3 linked regions of the Homo sapiens genome follow. The protein of the gene in region 3 interacts with the protein of the main gene of each other region in a pairwise test. Each region holds a gene or a part of one and is shown on either strand. Other genes may lie near its edges.

The links. Proteins that work in one complex are often made in the same cells at the same time.
Region 1: the proteins of FMR1 (region 3) and G3BP1 interact in binary tests that used the Homo sapiens proteins (3 or more experiments, as listed by UniProt).
Region 2: the proteins of FMR1 (region 3) and FSD2 interact in binary tests that used the Homo sapiens proteins (3 or more experiments, as listed by UniProt).

Annotation. Positions count from the first base shown.
Region 1 is NC_000005.10:151,808,593-151,813,285, reverse strand, and holds the end of G3BP1 (ras GTPase-activating protein-binding protein 1), read right to left. Parts: 3' UTR 501-4,693; downstream 1-500. UniProt on the Homo sapiens protein: Protein involved in various processes, such as stress granule formation and innate immunity. Plays an essential role in stress granule formation.
Region 2 is NC_000015.10:82,796,070-82,804,430, reverse strand, and holds part of FSD2 (fibronectin type III and SPRY domain-containing protein 2), read left to right. Parts: intron 1-1,792; exon of another isoform or gene 1,793-1,887; intron 1,888-8,064; exon of another isoform or gene 8,065-8,181; intron 8,182-8,361.
Region 3 is NC_000023.11:147,906,011-147,916,005, reverse strand, and holds the start of FMR1 (fragile X messenger ribonucleoprotein 1), read right to left. Parts: upstream 4,088-9,995; 5' UTR 3,827-4,087; coding exon 3,776-3,826; intron 1-3,775.

The DNA.
Region 1 (4,693 bases), on a different chromosome or scaffold from region 3:
CATCTGACAAACTGGATAAAACATGTCTTCAACTGCTTTGGACTTGAAATGGACAAAGTGAAACACAAAATGACCAAAACAAAAACCTAATACTTTTAAGCCCTCTTGATATTCCAAGACTGCCAAAGGCTATTCCACTCTCATTGTCTAGATCAGCATCACAGTAGACCTGTTGAATAAAAATCACCTTATCTAGAATTGATGCAAGTTACTGCAATGAATAACTTGTAGTACATTTAGGGTGAAGAGTGGCTGGTGCATGATTAGAATACTCAGTGACTGTTAACTTGGCAAGTGTTCAAACATACCACAGTGCTTCCAAATCACAAATCACTTGGTCCTCTCTCCCAGGACAGGCCACTTACGGAGACCTTATTCTCAAACTTGACTGGCCTAGGGAAGCTATAGAAAGAGACCAAATTACCTTGCAGCCATAGCTGTGAACACACTGGAGCCATACTTGAAAACTGGCGATGAACAGGACAACAGAGAGATACCAATTCATTGCTAAAACATTCCAAAATGAGTTTATTACAAAATAAATGCACAGTCACTGGAGGAAGGGGTTATTTTATTTATACACTCGATCTTAGATTTAGCAACCTTTCATTTTGACTCAGGATTCATTGACTAACTTAAGATGGGCTAGTTTCTGCCAACAGGGCAAGAGTGTGCAATCTCAGAGTCCCACCCAACCTGGCCAAAGCAAATGACTTCTGCATTAATTAGAAGTCATCCCCAAAGGACTTGCCCTTCATGTTTTCCCCATTTTGCCCGCTTAGATACTTGCACAAAAGATGCACCCTTTGTCTTTAAAGTTCCCTAGTTCGATGTTTAGGCAGAAGAGCAAATCCCAGGTTATTATTCTGCAAATAATTTTACATTTCCTTTATTCCAAAAATGTAGCTACCAACTTAAATGTATCATGACACACAAGGGGTAAAAGTTAGATACGAACTTCCAATAGCTAGGGCATGTTTCCTGAAACACTATCGTTCATTAGTACATTATTCAAGAAGTTACCTTAACCCCAAAGAATCTAAGAAGGGCACTGTGTAATTCTTCAGGTCACAATGCCAGCATGACTGTGGAGTCTGTTACAGGTAAGACAATCACAAGTTACAATGCTGTGATTCCAAATACTTTGGGGATGTAGAAAATGTGCTTAGCTGGGCAGCATGAATTAGCTCAGCAACATAGTGCTATGATGGAAGAGGTTCAAGATGATTCATACTTTCACGCCAGACCAGAAGTCACAAGCTCACATAGCGGCAACTCTGACAGCTAGCCAAAGTAGAAGATACTTCTAAAAAGCAGCCTGGGGACATTTTAATTAATTGGCCTGGAAAATCAGGTCAGAATTACAAAGTTCCTCATCCTTATGAAGAAGAAAATGTGATAGTATGTCTTTTATATGGAAATTTCTTTGTATATATGTATAAACTTGGTATGGCCTTAATGCTGCAGTTAAGGATTTGTCTGGCTACCACCTTAAGCAGCGTGTTAAGCAATCGCTTCCTTAATGTAACATTTTTACTTCTTACTGGACACTCAACCTTGAACAACTAATTCCCTTTTGCCCCTTACTCTTCCCCCCTTTTTTTGCATGAAGTCACAAAAGTTATGGCAGTTATTTTTTGGCTTGTAAAAAAAAAAAATCTATTTCTGCAGTTTGAAGATGGAATGTAAAATTTCTGTGAAACATGTATATAAAAGTATATTTATTGAACCATCCATATACACATATCCATGCTGATTCCAATGGAAAAAAATTAAAGTTTTCTGAAATTTTCTGTGGTTAACTCATAATTATTACTATTTAACCAACTTTATATGCAAGAACTTCCAATTACCCCAGGGAGAAACCTATGTATGACCTGGAAAACATCTCACTTTAGACAAGGCTTTATGTCGAGAAATGAGAATTCATTTGTTCATTCAAGAAGTATTTATTGATAGGTGCTAGGCAAGATACAAAGATGACTCAGACACAGATCCTGCCCATAAGGAGCTTACAGTCTAATAGGGGAGAGAGAACACATACATGGAATACATGGTCAGAACTATGTTTCAGTAAGATGAATCTAACATTGTGTATAAAGTAGGCTGGAGTAAGAGGTTAAGTGAAGCTGAGAGACTACTGAAATTACATAGGTGAGGAAGAAAGACGGGAAAGACTTGAGGTAGAACTGACAGGACTTAGCTGAAGACTGGATGTGGGGAATAACAAAAATGGAAGCAGATGACTCAGACTTTAGCATGGATGATGTCATGAACTGAAAGAAGGAACAAGTTTTTGCAAAGAAATGAAAATTTCATATAAAATTCTTCTGCATAGAAACAAACTGTCTGGGATATACTAGGCACAATCAGGAAGAAATGGCTAGTTACCCAGACCAATGGAAGCACCTCAAACTGGCCAGTGACTTCCTCCCCCTTATATATCCATCCCCCCAAATTTCCCAACAATTTTCTCCACTGAAATGGTATAGTGCCTAAAATTTATTAAATTCAAGGTCTATCTCCAGACATGGCCTCCCTTGGGAATGAAAACAGAAATATATTAAGTTATTCAACTCAGTAAGTTTCATCTAAAGACTCTAGTTATGAGTCACTGTACCTTCTGGTGGAATACAGAGATGAACTCCCTAGTCCTTATCTTCTAGGAGCTTACAGTCTAGTAAAGTAGTAAAACAGATAATGTAATTCTAATTCTAGACTGAAGGGGTAAGTTATGAACTACGAGAAAGACAAAGTGCTCTAGAACAGTTTCAGAAATGAAGGTTGGAACAGGACCTCAAACAAGAGGGAAAATGTGGAAAGTAGATGAGAATGGATTTGTTCCTCACTCCAAATTCTGGACAGATCAGCCCCAAAACGGGGCTACTCCCCATTCCTGTTGAAATTTTTTCTTAGGAAAAAATATAGCTCTTGTACTGATCTTTTAAAAAATTACTTACATGGCAAGAGATCAGAGGAAAGGGGGGATTGTAGATCTCAGTGGACCTTCGGGGAAGACAGAAGGCACTTGAAGCCAAGGAATCACAATGCCTGGCTTATCGGGAGGACCCTCAGTGTTTTAGCAAGGCTGGAGCATCACTTCCATGAAGAGTGGGAGAAATAACTCAAAAGTAATATTAAGACCTTGATATAAACATGGCATTGCCAGGCACTAAACAGGGTACACGCCTAAGACCAAATTGCTGCCCCCTAGGAGCTTACAGTTACAACAATACAAGGTGGAAAAAGCACCACAATGTACAGAATGCAAAATGCTGAAGTATTTAGGAGAAATTACAGCTGAGTTTCAGCTATTAACACATTAGGATACCCAATAGCTTTCTGACAGCTAGTAGTAAACCCATCCCTGAGGGGAGCACAAGTTAATGTCCTTAGACAACAAGCCCTGGTAGAGCTGGGCCATTAAAGACAGTTCTAAGAAAATTGAGAAAACAGGGGTATGAAAACTACAGAAGCAACTGGGTGAACATACAAAAAGTGATACCTTCCCTTTTTCTCCTGACAAACTTTAACAGGGCTGCCCTTCCTACAGTGAATCTAAACTGATGATCACCATATTACTTCTAAAAGCAGATTTGGGACTCTACTAACCAATTCTCTCTGATCCTTTGTAAAATGAAGGGGTTGTACAAGTCACTTCCTAGTCCTTTCCAGCACTAACATTCTATGATTCAAAGAATTCTGAGAGTTTCTCTGTTCCTTTTGGTAATAACCAAAATAGAAGAAAAAAATTTAAGTCTGATGCTTCTCACTCAAAAATATAATTATTTTCTATATAAATCACAAATGATCCCTATGCTATCAGCTAAATTTTACTTCCACCCTATCCTTCTTCAAAATCCATGAATTTTTTAAAACCACATGTCCTACAAGCTACCTTAGCATGCACCAAATGATTTTTCAAAAAGTTTTCTCATCTCCTACTCCCTTATACCAACTTCTTGGTATAATGTCATTTAAAGGGCCAAATCAGTGTACATCCAATCTTCATAACAAAATTTTAAAATTTAGGAGAACAACTGACATCAAAGCATGAGGACAGTGAGTAACCGAAGTGGTTTTTGTTGTTTTCTAATTTTTTGTTTTTTAGAGACAGGGTCTCACTCTGTCACCCAGGTTAGAGTGCAGTGGTATGATCATAACTCACTGCAGCCTCCAACTCCTGGGCTCAAGCAATCTCCTGCCTCAGCCTCCTGAGAGACGGAGACTATAGGAATGCGCCACCACATCTGGCTCACTTTTCAATTATCTGTAGAGACAGGGTCTTGCTATGTTGCCCAAGCTGGTCTCAAATTCCTGGCCTCGAGCAATCCTCTGGCCTCAGCCTCCCACAGCACTGGGATTACAGGCATGAGCCACCCCACCCCACCCCAAAGTGATTTTAACTTCAGCAATAGTTAAAACTGTTTCTATCCAGGTTAAACAGGATTTAATCTTCCATCTAATTACTATCAAAAATATAGGCAACCTTCCCCAAAAGTGGGCTTCTGAAAATAAATACTTGGTTCAGTAAATCAATAATTTCTGGTAAACATCCTTAATTTACTTAAAAAAATCCTAAGACACACTGTATGCACACTGTACCTTACAAATCTGGGACACTGGCCACATTTCAAAATACTACACTTAGGAATTTCTGTAATTGGCCAAGTCACATGATTTATTAAAGGAA
Region 2 (8,361 bases), on a different chromosome or scaffold from region 3:
AAGCAAGTCCTTTATCCTCACAAGATCTCAGTTTTGCCATCCTAAAATCAGGAATTTTTTTTAAACATCCATGACCTGCTGAATAAAATCAGGAAATTGAATTAGATGCTCTCCAAGGGACCTCCATCCCTAGAATACCATATCTCTGCCTGGGCCCCCTGGGAGAGGAATGATCTCATAGCTGATGTCTGTGCGTGGTTATGAGGCTGTTCTGCTTGGTGCCTTCTTTCATCATCGGCTGTTTTCAAGGGACAAATATTCCCACAGTAGCCATGGATGATTCCACACTGCTGTGGTCACTCTCCATGAGTGACTAGGTAGAAGGCTTCTAGCCCAGGTGGGAGATACTAAGGTAGGAATCATGATAATGATAGTAAGAACAACAACAATAACAGCAGCTAACACTTACTGAGGACTTACTTTAAGCTATGTACTATGCATAAAGTACATTATGTTATTTCATCTAAATGCCAACCTTATGAGGTAGACACTGTTAATAGAGCTGTTTTATAGTCCATTAAAGTTAGGCCTAGAGAGATGATTTTCCTGAAGTCATACTTCCAGGATGTGGCAGAAACAATGCAAACACAGGACTCTCTGAATCCAGAGGGCAGTGATCTTGGGGAGCAGGGAGAGGGGACAGGAAAAGGGATATTACTTAGAGATTCAAGAGGTAGAGTCAGAATCAGCATGAATTAGTTATTAATTAGATTGGGGGTGTCAAGGATGAGCTTCTGGTCTCTGGTTTGGTGCTGGAGGGGGTGGATGTCATGCTCTCATTCATGGATAGTAGCAATGCAGTGGACTTCATGGAGGGCCATGTTGGATGAGTATGGGGTTTAAGAAGCAGTGGTGAGATAGGGAAGAGTGGGAGCTCTCAGCAGGCAGGACAGTCTGAGCCAGGGCCTAGGGTGAGTCTCACATGGAAGACCCTGAGCGCGGCCAGAAGGAACAGAGGGTTACCGCTAGGGAAGGTGGGGCTGCTTGGGGAGTATAGAGCTATGGCATGGGGTGGGGGATCCCTGGTGCCCAGGAGAGTTGGGACTTGCCAGTAATGGAGCCCTCAGAATGCACGATGTGCAGATGTACCACTTCTGCCTGAACAAAGCAACATATGCTGTATAAGCTATGCTGCTATCCTGGGCAGGGACACCCCTGAGGAAGGACCATGGTGCGCGCAGTCAGCAGACTGTAGAGACAGGAGGGTTTCAAGCAAGATTTCGAGCCACAGAGGGAAATAGTGGGATTTTGGCACAGACTCTGTGCTTTAGGAAGGAGAAGTACTCTGGGGTCCCAGGAAAGAGGGAAAGCAGCGTCTCTGAGAAGTTGTGCATAGCCCCAGATGGGGTAATAATCCCTTAGTCACTTGTCTGGAGCCTCCTTGACACCAGCAACTGTGTCTCATCCATTGTACCCCCAGCGCCTAGCCCAATCCTGTTCTCTTGAATTCACACCTCACCAACCCCATGAACATTCAGAGCTGGGGCAATGAATGATGCCCAACACCACAGACCATGCATGTGGTAAGGTTAGCCAGGGTCACAGAAGGACCTAGGGCTTCACCAGATGACCTCTGCATGGGTGCAGACTTTCCAGGTCATTCCATGTTGCCCCATAACACACTAACTCTGCCATGACCAGGTGGAATCTATAACGCCCCAGGAGCAGAGGCAGCAACCAGGAGACCTGGTGGAGTAGAAATGAGGAACTGCTCCTAAGCTGGGGAGACCTGCTGCTGCTGTTGCTGGCTGATAAGAGGCCCATAGAGAAGAAGCATGACCCTCCCATCCTCTCAGGTTCTATTTCCAGAGGTACTTGTGCTCAGCTTCATTCTCCTACTCTTCCTCCCCCATGATGCCAAGTAAGAGCTCAACCCAGCTGTTAATGGTAAGACATTATTTCTATGCAATGTGGGTAATTCTGATTAGCTGGGCAATCTGACATACAGGAGTGTGAAGGCAGGATTCAGGGCCTCTCAGGGCAGAAGGCTCTGATTACTTTGTTGAGAATCATCCACTACAACAAGGGATTCAGGATGAGAGAGGAGGCAAAGTGGTGTTTCCATAGCTGGAAGGGAACTTTGACCTTGGGAACCATCGGAGGGAAACATGGGCTAAAGTGCAGGCAATGTGCATGATACCCAGGAGGAGCTAGCAATCCCTTGGGTCTGGTATGTATGGAGGGGGAGACTTGCTGGTCCAGCTCAGCACTGGTTTTGCTGGGATGCAGATTCAGTGTGAGAAGAAGCTGTGCCCTAGTTCACTTGAAGCCACACTTCTCCAGCCCTGTGTACAGGCTGCATTAGTGAGGATGAGCCAGGACTGCCCCAGCCAGAGCCTAATGGTAGACAGGTTTCTTAGTAGTAACCTCCCCATAAAGAAAACTCAATTCTGGAGTCTTCATAAATCATATGAAGGCAAAACACTGGCTGTGGAGGCAAAACACTGGCCCTGGTGCCTGGAAACCACTGGCTTTGCGATGCTGCCTCTGGAAACCTACCTCCACTCATCCTTCTCTCCATCTAGGGGTGGACCTGATCCTGTTTGTGGTCCCAGGTGGCATGGACCAAGACATGGTGGAGCTGGTGCCTTGTGTGCTTTAATCCTGCATGGTCATGGTATCTCAGCCTCAGCAGGTGTTACTGAAGTGATATTTACCACTATCTTCCATGTGAAGAGTTTTGGAGCATTGGAGAGTGGGAGAACTCCAAGAGTGATGTTCCCAAGTCTTAGAGTCTCAGGAGTAAGGTTTCCTTATGAGGATCCAGATCTCTGAAACCAATAACATACATGGCATTGGGTTAGGATAGCAGCATCTTTGTCACCTAATGACTGCTGGAAGTCGACCTCTCTGTGTGGTGCTGATACAGTACCTAGAAAAACAGCATCCCGTGGACACTTCAGAGTGAAGAGGAGAAGAGAGAAGGTCCCCAGGGGCTCACCAGGGCTGAGTCCAGGTAGTCACACTTCCACATCCCACCTCCCCAACCCGTCTACCATCAGAGAAGGCTGGTTGGTTCTTGTGTTTTTGTCTTGCTGTCAGAAAGAGCCAGGGTGAGCCCATGGAGGGAAATGTGAGGGATTTCGAAGGCAGGGTGTAGCCACGATTAACTGGGGGAGTGATAGTTGGTACGGAGCACCAGATGAAATGACTAAGGGCCCCTCTGGGTTAAGAGCAGGACATGGTTCCATCACTGTGATCCAGAACCTCCTATTCTTGGATCAAAATGTTTCCAGCATCCTGGGTTCTTGTAATCTCCCAGGATAGGAATCAAGAGAGATCACCAGACACAGCAGCATAGAGAAAGTTTATTTTAGCTTGTGCACAAGGAAGCTGGCACTGAAGAAGAAAAGAATGGGCTGCTCCTTGAGGGCAGTAGTGTGTGGGTTAGTTTTATAAAGGCTTTCTATGGGGAAGGGTTACATTGGGGCAGGTGTAGGAGAGTTTTTCTAGTGCTTGCACAGTGGCTCAACATGCTTCTTCATATATTATATGTAGCATTAGCATTTTAAATCACCACCCCAGGGGTGATTTTTAGCATTAAAATGAAGAAGGGGTAACTATAGGTTGGAGTTTAAATGTAACTGCACATTTGGGTCTCCAAGGAAGTCCCTAGACCCCCGAAATAGGAGCTTATGGTTATAGCAGTTATAGCTTCTTGGGTCTTCTGTTACTGATTGGCTGGGAGTTAGATAAGCAAGAGCCTGACTGAGGGGCTTTTTTTTTTTTTTTTTTTTTTGAGACAGAATCTCGCTCTATCCCCCAGGCTGGAGTGCAGTGGCATGATCTTGGCTCGCTGCAACGTTTGCCTTCCAGGTTCAAGCGATTCTCATGCCTCAGCCTCCCGAGTAGCTGGGATTACAGGCACCCACCACGACGCCCAGCTAATTTTTGTATTTTTAGTAGAGACGGGGTTTCACCATGTTGGCCAGGCTGGTCTTGAACTCCTGACCTCAGGTGATCTGCCCACCTCAGCCTCCTAAAGTGCTGAGATTACAGGTGTGAGCCACTGTGTGGGGCCGACTGAGGGGCTTTTATCATTTTCCTCCAGACCATCTTAACATAGGAACCTAGCTAGCCTGCCTGTCTCAAATCCTTCCTAAATGGGCCAGATGTAGAACTGTGTTGGCACCTCTGCTTTCCTCATCATTACTCCTAGCCTTTTCCTGTGCTTGCAGGACAAAACTTGGAGGGCACTGGGGCAGGCAGTGAGCAGAGCCTGGCTGGTTGTCCCCAGGAAGGAAGGGGGAGGTCCAGGCCATAAGGGCAAGGTGTCATCTCTGACCAGAGACAGAGTTCTTCTCTGAGGACGCAGGGCAGAGTTCTTCTTCCCGAGGCCATGGGTAACTTGGCCTCCACAAATAAAGGCTGAGGAAGAGGGATGAAACTGGAGGCTTACAGCAGGAATGTCCAGGGAGGGCAGAGGGAAGGGCAGGCAGTCAGTTCAGGACATCACAGACATTCATGGCCAGAGTGTAGAGAGGCTGAAGAAGGTGGGTTTTCTGGAAGACTGTCCCAACCTCTCACGGGCCAGCTGGGCATCCAGGCATCTTCTACCTTACAAGGTAGACCAGCAGAATAGGCACCATTTAGAGATTTAGAAATGCAGTTTTCCAGACCTCACTCTAGACTTTCTGACTCTACGTTTAACCAGAACCCCAAGGCGACGTGTGTGCAGGAAAGTTTGAGAAACCTTATTGAGAGGAGGAGTTCTGGCAGGGCTGGTGGGAGGACACCCCACTAACAGGCAGCATGCAGGGGCTGCCGTGGAGGTGACGTCACACCACATGGTGAGTTGGGGAAAGAGAGAGGCAATGAGCTCCATCTGGCAGTGCTGAGTTTGAGGGGGCTGCTGGAGGGGGCTGCTCAAGACAGCAGCTGCACCTCTGAGCCTCTGCCTCTGCATGGGGCACAGGTTAGAGCCAGAGACATGGATTTGGAGCCCTCAGAAAAGACGGGGACATAGAAGCTGTGAGACTGGATGAGATCACCTAGAGCAAGTGGAGAGTGGGAAGAGGGCCTAGAATGGAGGTTAAGGGGATGCCTGCATATAAAGAGCAGCCAAGGGGAGGAACTTGGCAGAGATTTCAGCAGTCAGTGGCCTAGGGGAAATCCCAGCTGAGCCGGGGGACACAGAAGGGTCAATAGGATTGAATGGCATGGAGCAGTCAGGAGAGCACCAGACAGGGTCCATGAATTTCCAAATTAGGCCATGAGAAAATGTTATATTAAAAGGGCAATCAAAAGTGGAGATAGGCCAGGCGCATTGGCTCACACCTGTAATCCCAACATTTTGGGAGACCAAGGCGGGAGGATTGCTTAAGCAGGAGTTTGAGACCAGCCTGGGCAACATAGTGAGACCGTGTCTCTACAAAAATTACAAAAATTAGCCAGGCGTGGTGGTGCATGCCTGTGATCCCATCTGCTCAGGAGGCTGAGGTGGGAGGATTGTTTGAGCCCAGAAGGTCAAGGCTGCAGTGAGCTGAGATTTCACCACTGTGCTCCAACCTGGGCAACAGAGCAAGACCCTGTCTCAAAAAAAAAAAAAAAAACAAAACAGTGGAGATAGTGGAAAGAAAACTTAATGCCTTTTTAAAAATATAGTTTGGGAAGTGGCTATTAAAAGGACAGTCTATCAGCAGAAGTGACAGTCTATCACTGCAGAAAGTTAAACAGAGCTGATAGGGGAAGCCGACGAACTTGTTGACTTCTGTTTTCTGTGTACAACTGTGGAACAAATAGGGAAGACAAACAGCTGGCTGCTAACTTTGATCACATAAATGGAAGTTAAGGAAAACTGGATCATAAAAGTGATGGATAAGGAAAAAACAGTGCTAAACCATATCTTAAAATATTTTGCTTATTTTTCTCAAAACATTATATATATATGTCATGTTAAAATAGTTTAATAATATTAGTTTTTTTAAAAAAAGACATTAGATTTACCACAATTTTTTAATGGGGGTAGGCATTAGGAACTGGATTGTGATGATGGCTGCACAATTTGGGGAATTTACTAAAAATCATTGAATTGTGCACTTAAAACATGAATTTTCTTCCTTTCGTTCTTTCTTCCTTTCTATCTTCTGACAGGGTCTTGCTCTGTCACCCAGGCTGGAGTGCAGTGGCAAGATAATAGCTCACTGCAGCCTCAATCTTCCAAGCTAAAGTGATCCTCCCACCTTAGCATCCCGAGTAGCTGGGACTGCAGGCACACACCACCACGCTGGGCTAGTTTTGTTTTTTGATTTTTAAATAGAGGTGAGGTTTCTTTTTGTTGCCCAGGCTGGTCTCGAACTCCTAAGCTCAAGTGGTCCTCCCACCTTTGCCTCCCAAAGTGCTTGGATAACGGGTGTCAGCCACTGTACCTGACCTGTAATATTTTTCTGTGCTTGGAAAGTCTTTTGTTGGTCATCTATGATACTTCTCTACAAAAATACAGATGTATAACTTGAGATGAAAGATTTTCTCTTGTTCTCCTGGGACCATACATCTCTGAATATTAAACTCTTTTTTTCTTTTGGATGAAGTTACCAATACAACTTTTAATCACATGTAAGCAAAATAACATAAACATATTACAAATTTTGGTAAATAATAATAATTATTATTGTTATTTTTGAGATGGAGTCTCGCTCTGTCGCCCAGGCTGGAGTGCAGTGGCGTGATCTTGGCTCACTGCAACCTCCGCCTCCCAGGTTCACGCCATTCTCCTGCCTCAGCCTCCCAAGTAGCTGGGACTACAGGCGCCCGCCACCACGCCCGGCTAATTTTTTGTATTTTTAGTAGAGATGGGGTTTCACCGTGTTAGCCAGGACGGTTTCGATCTCCTGACCTCATGATCTGCCCGCCTCGGCCTCCCAAAGTGTTGGGATTACAGGCGTGAGCCACCACGCCTGGCCAATAATTGTTAAATGAAAAATAAAATGGAAATGCATCTCTTAATGAGGTAGATGGAGCTTTTTTAAAAAAAGTTTATTTGTGTATCCATTGATGAAAATTACATATTTTAGACTGCAACAGGAATTAGGGTCAATTGTCTTTCCGCTTTTCATTTTGTTGATGTAAGAACAGAGCAACCTTGCTTAGCTACGTAATCAAACATTGATGGAAATGAAAGTGTTTTATTATAGCAATGTCACTCACATTTTTGAACTCTTTCTGAAATGTGTTTCAAAAAGTACATAGTGATCTATCATGAAAAATTATTTTTAATCATATATTAGCTGACAATTTGATTAGATCCTCCTTCAACTTTATTGAAAGCAAAGAACTGGAAACCACTTAGCTTGAAAACAAATTTTTTCTTATGCATTCATTAATGTCATTCACCCTCCACCATTGATAGCAATACTTCAAATTGTCCTTCCATTTAGTCCCCTGGAGGTGTTTTTTTTTTTTTTTTTTTTTAATTACCAAGCAATGAAATCTTACAGTGCAATGAAATATTCAGGATAAGTGAGAGGTATAGTTTTACTTTTGTAATAAAGAGAAAAAGGACTATTGTGAAAAAAGAATCTACATGAAGCCTCAAATGCTAGTTCCTTCCCAGGCAGAGCAGCTCTGGGAAAGATTAAATATAAAGTTGAGCATCTGGGAGCTGATCCTCCTGAAGCTATCTATACCATGTACCCCTTGGAAAGTCTTCGCATACAGATTCCATAGCCTGAAGAGTGATGGTGGAAATGCCACCCTTTGATGGAGTCTGGAGAGGGAAAGGGGAGAAAGAGAGAATAGCAGCTAGCAGAGAAAGCTGGGTGGAAAGTTTATTTTTAGTCTGGGACAATGAACTAGTCATCTATTGTGGCATAACAAATTATTTCAAAACTTGACAGCTTAAAACAACAAATATTTATTCTCTTGAATCGTTTCTGAGGGTCAAGAACCTGAGAACAGTTCGTCTGGGTGATTGTGGCTCAGAGTCTCTCATGAGGCCTGGTGACCACTTTCCGTTGGTTCTCCTAATACGTCTTATGCCCGCAGCAATGCTGCCAACTTCTTCAGCTCACCTGCCAGCCAACCTTGGTTCACCTGTGTTTCCATATGTTTTTCTTGCTTTTACAGCCACTGGGGACCAGCTCTGGCCAGGACAATTCCGTTTGCCATGATGTGGGTTGAAATCACAACTTCTCCCGGGCGCAGTGGCTCACGCCTCTAATCCCAGCACTTTGGGAGGCCAAGGTGGGTGGATCACAAAGTCAGGAGTTTGAGACCAGCCTGGACAACATGGTGAAACCCCGTCTCTACTAAAAAATACAAAAATTAGCTGGATGTGGTTGCGGATGCCTGTAATCCCAGCTACTTGGGAGGCTGAGTCAGGAGAATCACTTGAAACCAGAAGGCGGTGGTTGAGTGAGCAGA
Region 3 (9,995 bases):
ATAACACTGTAACTATAGTTATAGGATGCTAAGGCAGTGTTATAGCACAAAATACAATCAAAGACCACCATGAAATTGAAAACTAAGCAGGAAATCAAACCAATTTCTTCAAGCTAAATTTCATCATTTCAGGAATTCAGAATCCTGACCCTTAATGGCCCTGACACTTGGTAGTAAGTCACTTACCTAACCTCTCTGTGCATCATTTAAAGAATGGGAATAACAACAATACATCAAATAAAGTATCAGAGAGAACAGTGCCTGGCACCTAGAAAGTACTCATCCCCTGTTAACTATTATTATAATCACGATCCCAATCTTCTCAGGAAGCACATTCCTATAGTGGGCAGAAATCAGAAACTCCAGTAATATACCACTGAATGTTGCATCTAATTAATAATTTGGAGGTTATGAGAATATTTAAGTATGGGGTTAGAAAATGCACAGTTCAAAAGGGGAAAAATGATGCAGCCACAAAGATCCTAAAAACTAAAAAGGGCAATCAGACTGTAGGAAGGAAAAAAAATGTGGTTGACCCCAATAATTCACTTCCTCGAAGTACAGAATAACACCTTTATGCAAAGTTAGCTCAGGAGACTTCAGAGAAACCACGAGTGCAAGTTTATTTACACTTTACCCAAGTTGATTTATAAACTTATAAATTTATAAACCTTATGCAAGTTTATTTGTAGTAAAACTGATTTTACTACATTTCAGCTATGTATCTGAAATGACATGTTAGACCACTAATATCTTCATTAAAAATATCCTTTTGATTGTACACTTTATCATATTTAGCTGCTAGCTGCCATAATACTACTAACCAAATGAAAGTCTGTCCTCAAACACTGAACTTAAAAAAGTATAATCTAACAACAAAATTACAATCTAGTATAATTACACCATATTACAACAAGGAATCAGAAATCAGAGGTTGTATTTTCAGAAAACAAAAAGGTTTGTATCTTATGTCTCCAACATGTGATTTTTCCATCTTTAGTAATTTTCATACTAGTACACAAAACCTACAAATCTTAGGATTCATTAGGGCATTCATATTGGAGTGATACGCATTCTACATTTAAAATGGAGTTAATTCATTACCATTCTCAACACATCAAAACTTCTAGTCCAAAGAAAACAAATTATGTGGGGCAGATGCACCTAGAATAAAGACTTTATTTCATCATTATTCATTTAGAAAATACTTTGTAAAGATTTTATGAGGTGTAAGTCAAAGTGCCTTCATATCTTAACACCTGCAGGGCACTATAAAGTGGTACACGTGACCAATTTTTTCTAAGTCAAACAAATACCTAAGCATAAAAGTAGTGGCTCTGGTGATCGCTAAATCTAACTTTTAAGTTTTTAAGAATAAACACCAGAAGATAGAGAGCTGTCCTTGCAAATATGGTGGTTATGTTAGGCAAATCAAAGTCTGAATTCCATTATACTCAAGTTGTTTGATTTGTTTAGTTTTAAAAGCTTTTCTATCAATTTGATGAACAAGGTTCCTATTTCTTTTTCCATAAATGTAACACTTCTCCACAGCAGTTCATTTTTCATTGGTTTTTATTTCACATCTTTCCTGTCCATCCCACTGGACAAGCAACTCAGTTTACTTTTGCTTTACTTTTAAAACTCACAGCAGTATTATAAGTCATATAAAAATTTCAAGCTTTTTTGTTACAGAAACTGTTCTTCCATCAGTGCAGACCATTTGAGATTTTCTTAGAAATCAAACTTAATTAAATAAACATAACAGCAATTTGTCTGACACACACTTGTTCAAGTATTAACATTTCTCCTCAGGGAACTAAGGGGCAACCAACCTATTCTTCATTCACCTTCAAGTTAAACAACTTCGTTACAAAACAAAACAAAAAAGGAGGGAATTAATAGCAAAAATAGAAGGCATTTCTTATATTCCAGTCAGTGTGCAAGCAAAATCACTGGAGCAAATCATAAGTTGCTGGAAGAGAACAATAAGTACTTCAAGGCCATAATGTGCTACTTGCCCTCTGTGATAAGCAAACTTTAGTGGCATCCAATCTAAGTTTATATCACAGGTCAATCAAAATCTTGCCTAACCATTAGCCGTTACTCACACATATATATGTATATGTATTATAGTTATTAGTGCCAGAAATCTAGTGACCAAAACCACTAATCTAGGACCGTGAACGATTCTACGCAAACTCACCAGAAGAAATTATGGATCAATAAAATCAATGAAATTAAAATTTTGACTGCAGAGTCAACTGAAACAATTTCATATTCATGAGACTGTTAAGAACATAAACGCGGGGTTACCTTTTGCCTCCTTTTACAGCAAAAGGCTTTATCTTTGTGCTCAAAGTATGGAACAGTTTACATACTTTACTCATTTATGAAATATACTGATCTCCAAATGTCTTCATAAAATTGGTAAACACAGAATAAAGTCAATTGTTTATTTTCCTATAGCCAAACGTGTCCTGTCTGAAACATTCAAGCCATTCTACAATACATTTAAGAATTGTGTTGGACACTGCTAATAGCTATTTTCCAGCCTTCCTTCCACACGCACCTTCTATTGCCAAAATACTGTAGTAAGGTGGGATATTATTGAAAGAGGTTATAGACATTCAAAAGGAAATGAGAATTTATAGATGAATTTATACAGCACCTACATACCAACAAACGCACTACTGCTACATCAAATTTGTAAATCTTCCTTTTAAAACTGAAAGGTGTTAGTTGATCTGCAATGGTGTAACTTTAAAAAGCACAGTAAACCCATGAATGCCTATATAAAGCCTCAACAATTCAGTCCACTGCAACACCACAAATTCAAAGGAAATGTGGTCAAGTTCTTAGGGGCACAAAAATATTTTCGCTCAGTTAAAAAAAAAATGCCCTAGTAATAATATACTCTCAGTTAATTACCTGAAGTTTCATGGCATATATTTAGGTCTTTGGAAACTTAAACACACACACACAATTTTTAAGTAGCAGCGCTGCTAATGGTTTTAGACGCTGAAGCATGTGCATTCCTGAATTTACCCCGTTTAACAAAAAGGGGGACGCGAATATTCACGATGATCAACTTCTTCAATGCACTGCTGGGCCATGTTAGGGTCTTCCTGAAACTTTTGGATCTAAAATCTCCTCCGAAATCCACAAAGAGAAGCCACTAAAAATCAGTTGCCATTGTGATTTGGTGCCGACTACCGCTTCTTACTACTCTTTCTTCACAGCCCTCGCCCAGAACAGTGGAGCTCTCCGAAGTCCCAATGCTAGACCGGAAAAGAGAAGCCAAAGGAGACCTGAAGCCCTCTTGGCGCTGCAGGAGGCGGCCCGGCTGAAGCGCCCCCCGCTCCTCCACAACTACCCACACGACAGGCCCGGATCCCGCTGGGAGATGATGTTTAGGAAAGGGGGAATAAGCCATCGCCGTCACTTAGCGCCGATTTCGGCCCTTCCCGCCCGGCTCTAGTACCTGCCGCCGGCCCTCGCCCATCCCCAGCTCACCCCGGCGGGGCTCGGCGCCGAAAGAGAACCCTCTCCTCGCTGGTCTCTCATTTCGATAGGCGCTAGGGCCTCTCGGAGTCGGAGAGGGGCTTCCAACAGGCCCCAAGTCCAGTCCTTCCCTCCCAACAACATCCCGCCGAGCGTGCCCTGGCACCCAGGCGCGGTGCTCGGGAAGAGGGCCCCGGGCCTGCCTCCCGCCGACACCAAGAAGAAAAGGGAGGGAAGGAAGGGCGAAGATGGGGCCTGCCCTAGAGCCAAGTACCTTGTAGAAAGCGCCATTGGAGCCCCGCACTTCCACCACCAGCTCCTCCATCTTCTCTTCAGCCCTGCTAGCGCCGGGAGCCCGCCCCCGAGAGGTGGGCTGCGGGCGCTCGAGGCCCAGCCGCCGCCGCCGCCGCCGCCGCCGCCGCCTCCGCCGCCGCCGCCGCCGCCGCCGCCGCCGCGCTGCCGCACGCCCCCTGGCAGCGGCGCCTCCGTCACCGCCGCCGCCCGCGCTCGCCGTCGGCCCGCCGCCCGCTCAGAGGCGGCCCTCCACCGGAAGTGAAACCGAAACGGAGCTGAGCGCCTGACTGAGGCCGAACCCCCGGCCCGCTGCGGGTGTAAACACTGAAACCACGTCACGTGATCAACGCTGTTCCCTCCCCCCGCGGGCTCAGCCCCTCGGCCCCGCCCTCTCTCTTCAAGTGGCCTGGGAGCGCGCGCATGCGCGCTGCTGGGAACCGGCCGGGGTGCCGGGTCGAAAGACAGACGCGCGGGCCGGGCGTGCGCGGGCTTGGTGGAGGGCGGGAAGGCTGAAGGGCGGTGACAGGTCGCACTGCCTCGCGAGGGCCAGAACGCCCATTTCTGCAGAGGTGCACTCAGTGGCGTGGGAAATCAAATGCATCCGGTTATCCCAGTTCGGCCTCTCTGGGATTCCGCGGGAGGGGGTGTCTGGTCTGGTTTGGTTTGGTTTGGTTTGGTTTGGTTTGGTCCGGTTCAAAGTAGCGCAGTCTGACTGAGCGGGAGGTGGAGTGGAAGGCGAGAATAGGGGTGAAGGATTAGACAGAAGAAGACTTTGAACTAGGAACAGTGGCAACCAGGGTGACCCAGGCTTTTGTGACCCGTAGAGGCAGAAGGTGAGGCGTCTACGCCCTCTCTCACCAGATTTTGGGCGGCCCTGTGGAGACACCCTGTGCCCTTTAAGGGACATGGATTGAGTCGGGATCTCAAAATGTGAGCCTTTCCTCAGACCCAGCTTTGACCCACGTACTCGCCTTTCCTCAACTCATTTTCATACTTTCACTTGACTATATATTTTTTAAAAATTGTGTTAAGCACTTGAGGTTCATTTCTGCCCCTACTGTATGTGCACCCTGTGCCAGAGGGTGGGGTGAACACGTGTGTAGCAGTCATGCGTCCTGTCCACAGGGGCCGATGCACCTCCTTGCAACCCTTTACATTCCACTGTGAAACAAACCTCAACTTTTTCTTATTCCTGTTTTTACACCGTGCTTATAGCTGCCTTAATCCATGTTCCCTTCGGGATGCTGGTATCCAACTGAGAAGTTGACGGAGCATCTATCGTGTGCCAGACACTGTGCTAAGTGCTAACGAGAAATCGGTGAGCAAAACAGAAAAGAAAAAAAAAGAAGAAACGACTGCCAGCATTGAACTTAGTACCTAGCAAAGTAGGTGGACATAAATCAAATTGTCAGACAAGTAAATGAGTAGTTGCAGCTGTGATAAGGGGTATGAAGAATAGGCGCTTCCATGATGGCGGAACATGACCTAGTCTGGGGTGGAGAAGGGGAGATGATTCCAGCTGGAATATGGCAGGTGAGAGTTAACTAATAGCACTGAGTTGGCAGAGGCAGGATGACCTGCCCCAGGCAGGTGCCCCAGAATGAGAGGATGTTGCTGCTGGTGGAACTCCAGCTTTAAAGCGGTGGATCTAGGGCCACATTCCTCAAGGCCATAGCAAACAGGAAAGACCTTTTGGACTAGGGTCTTTGGAGTAGTCACATGAGGCCAAGAACCCAATAGGGCTGAAAGAGAATCTCATCATAGGCTGAATGGGAGCAGAGCATTAGCTGCAACTCCAATGTATTATAGTAAAAGGGGACACATTGATTAGAATGATTATACCCCTCCAAGTGTAAGCTGTTGTTCAATTTACCCAGGGCTTAAAAATATGTCAACTCTTCACAACCATTTTTACTACAAGCCACACTCAACCTGTGTTGTTCCCTGAACCTGTGATGCACTTTCATCCGTTCATGTCTCTACACATCCTTCCTGGGCCCCATAGAGGCCCTGCACCTTAAGGTTTTCAGCTGGATTCCTATTAGCTAGTTATTTTATCTCAGGTACAGAGAGTTAACTTTGCTCCTCAATTTTCAGCACATTGTCATATCAGTCCCTACAGGGTCCTTGTTTACATTATTTTATAGTGTTTATATTATTTTTTCCTCATCTTTCTCGATCCCCACTCTCATTCTTCTAGACACAAGCTGCAATATGTTCGATAGAGATCCTTGATAATTTAACACAGATAATGTTTTGTTTATGCCTCTTGCATTTACAGAGATGGTATTGGACTGTAAATCTCTATTTCCCACTGTTTTACTCAACAGTCTGTTTTTGAGCTATACCCACATTGCTGTGTGTACACCTAGTTTGCTACCGAGTATGCCAGAAATTTTATTCATACATATCCCTACTGATCGGGCATCTAGGTTACTGCCAACTCCCTGAAGTCATACTGTGGTGAAAACCCTTGTGAATGTCTTTACAAACCTTTGCCAGAACTTATTTTGTGCTCTTGTAGAACTTTGTGCATACCCTCTGCTTCCTCATTACACTGCTTGGCATATAGCAGAGACTCAACAAATGTTGAATACCTCTACTATGATGGTTAGTGTACTAGAATAATTTATTTATATTTCTGTTTTCCTTATTGGATTATTAGTACCTTCCAGACAGGGCAAATGTCTTTTCTATCTTTGTGTCCCTGGCACATTAAAAGTGGTTGATTTCAAGGTATGTTCAATGAATGAATAAATACTTATCTTCACTGCCAGTACATACTGCAACTTAGTCTTCCCCACTTGACTCTGAGTCTCAGCCTTACTCTGATCTCTAGCTTTTGATATTTCCCCTTTCAAGATAGCTTACCTGAATTCAGACACTGAGCTCAGGCCTGATCATGAGCCTGCTCTTCCAAAGTCCTCTCTCTCTCTCTCTCTTTCTCTCCTGTCTCTCGTTACAGGCAGCTCCTGCCTTCCAGTTCGTTGCTCAAGCCTAAAACTGAGACATTTTGACCCTCTTTCACACATCAGATCCATCAGCAAATCATTGTAGAATCCAGACTCTGTTTCTGATCATTTGCTCAGCTAAAACCATAGTCCAAGCTTCCATTCTCTTACCTGCATTATGGCAGCAACTTCTTCGCTGGTATCCCTGCAGTCACTGTCCACTGTTGTACCCTCTCTGACAGTTCTCAGCACAGAAGACAGAATGACCCTGTTGAGGTGTCAATCAAGTCACTCTGCCACTCACAATCCCCCAGTGACTCCCTACATCTCTCAGAGTAAAAGCCAGAGTCATTATTTATTCTGGCTTCAGTGCCCTATATACTCTGACTTCTGTTATCTCCGCTATCTCACCTTCTACTTTCCCCCTTCACTTCATTCCAGTGCATGAAATCTATCTAGTTCACCTAGATTTTCTCCTATGTTATCTTTCAGAAGTTTTACAGTTTTGTGTTTTGCATTTAGGTCTATGATCCATTTTGAGTAAATTTTTTTCAAAAGATATAAGGTCTGTATCTAGATTATTTTTTGCATATGAATGTCCAGTTATTCCAGCACTGTTTATTGAAAAGGCCATTGTTTCTCATTCCAGCCATAATGTTTTCTTTGTTGTTTCTTGAAAATAGCAGACAGGTTCTGTCTCTCTCCCCTCACTAGAGTGTAAGCTCAGTGAGAACAAAGATTTCCATTTGTTTTATTCACTGCTTGTCCCCAGTGCCTACCACAGTGTCTGGAACATAGTGAATGTTTACTAAATATTACATGAATGAACGAATATGTGTTGAGGACCCGGCCGAGGTTGAGTCAGCTCTCATGCCTATATTTATCTGATATTGGAATGATGCTTCAGTGTTTCTAGCCCTGCCTTGGCCCTTGGTTTCCATTAAATTGCTGCCTGTTGTCTTTGCATTGATTTATTCTGTGCTATTTCCTGCTCCTTCGCAATTTGAGCCCTCTGAGTCTTTTCCATGGCTCAAACCCAGCTGAAATGCCTTCTGCCCTTTCCGACTCTCAAATCTTATGTACCCTTCAGGACCCAGCTAAAGTCACACTTCTTTCTTGACACTTTCTCTGACAATTTCCTTTAACCATGACCTCTCATTCAAATGAGATATTAGAAAAAGAATAATTAATTGGCTTTATTTTTTAGAACAGTTTTACATTTATGGAAAAATTAAGCAGATAGTGGAGAGAGTTTCTATGTACTTCCTAATCTCCCTCCTCCCCTACAGTTCCTCCTGTTATTAACATCTTGCATTCGCATTGTACATTTATTACAACTGATGCATTATTACTAACTAAAGTCTATAGTTTACATTAAGATTCACTCTTTGTGTTGCATAGCTCTGTGGGTTTTGAAAAAAGCATAACATATCCACCATTACAGTGTCAGCAGAACAATTACACTGCATTAAAAAATTCCTTGTGTTCCACCTATTCATCTGGTCTACCTGCAACCAACCCTTGGCAATCACTGATGTTTTTACTTTCTGCAGAATTTTGCCTTTTCCGTAATGTCATAGAGTTGGAATCATATAGTATGTAGTCTTTTCATACTGCTTTTTTTTTTTTACTTAGCAATATACATTTAACATTCCTCTGTGTCTTTTCATGGCTTGATAGTTTATTTTCTTTTATTGTGCACAGTATTCCACTGTATGTATATACCATGGTTTGTTTATCCATTTATTTATTGAAAGACATCTTGGTTGCTTTCAGTCTTTTAAAATTATGAATAAGGCTCCTGTAAACTTTCTTGTACAGATTTTTGTATGGACATAAGTTTTCAACTCATTTAGGTAAATACCAAGGAGCATGATTGCTGGATCATATGGTAAGACTATGTTTTGCTTTATCAAAAATTACCAGATGATCTTCCAAAGTGGCTGTAACAGTTTGCATTTTCACCAGCAATGAGTGAGACTTCCTGTTACTCCACATCCTTGCCAACATTTGGTGTTGCCAGTATTTTGAATTTTGGGTATTTTAATAGGTGCATAGTAGAATCTTATTGTTTTAGTTTGCAATTTCCTAATGACATATGGCATTGGGCATCTTATGCTTGTTTGTCACGTATGTATCTTCTTTGATAAGGTGTCTGCTCAGATCTGTTACCCATTGGGTTTTTTTTATTGATGATTTTTCAGTGTTCTTTATATATTTTAGATATCAGCCCTTTATCAGATTATGTATTTTGCAGATATTTTCTCCCAGACAGTGGCTTGTCTTTTCATTCATTTAACAATGTCTTTCATTGAGCAGACATTTGTAATGAAAAAATTTCGACTGTTCAGTTTTTTTCAGGGATCGTGCTTTTAGCATTGTACCCAAAAAGTCATCACCAAACACAAGTTCACCTAGATTTTCTCCTATGTTATCTTCCAGAAGTTTTACAGTTTTGTGTTTTGCATTTAGGTCTATGATCCATTTTGAGTAAATTTTTGTGAAAGATATAAGGTCTGTGTCTAGATTGTTTTTTGCATATGAATGTCCAGTTATTCCAGCACCGTTTGTTGAAAAGACCATTGTTTCTCCATTGAATTATTTGCTCCTTTGTCAATGATCAGTTGACTGTATTTGTATGGATCTAATTCTGGCATCTTTATTTTGTTCCATTTATCTACAGTTGGCCCTCTGTATCCATGGGTTCTGCATCAACAGATTCAACCAATGACAGATCAAAAATATTCTTTAAAAATCCCCTAAAAATGGCCAGGAGGGGTGGCTCATGCCTGTAATTTTGGTACTTTGGGAGGCCAAGGTGGGGGGATTATCAGGTCAGGAGTTCGAGACCGGCCTGGCCAACATAGTGAAGCCCCGTCTCTACTAAAAATACAAAAAATTAGCTGAGCATGGTGGCGGGCACCTGTAATCCAAGCTGCTCAGGAAGGTGAGGCAGGAGAATCACTTGAACCCAGGAGGCAGAGGTTGCACTGAGCCAAGACCGCACCACTGCACTCCAGCCCTGACGACAGTGCAAGACTCAGTCTCAAAAAGAAAATCCCCTAAAAATAACAATATAACAATAAAAATAATACAAATAAAAAATCAATAAAGTATAACTGTTACATAGCATTTACATTGTGTTAGGTATTATATATAATCTAGAGATGATTTAAAGTATACAGGAGGAGGATGTGCATAGGTTATATGCAAACACTACGTCGTATTATATAAGAAACTTGAGAATCC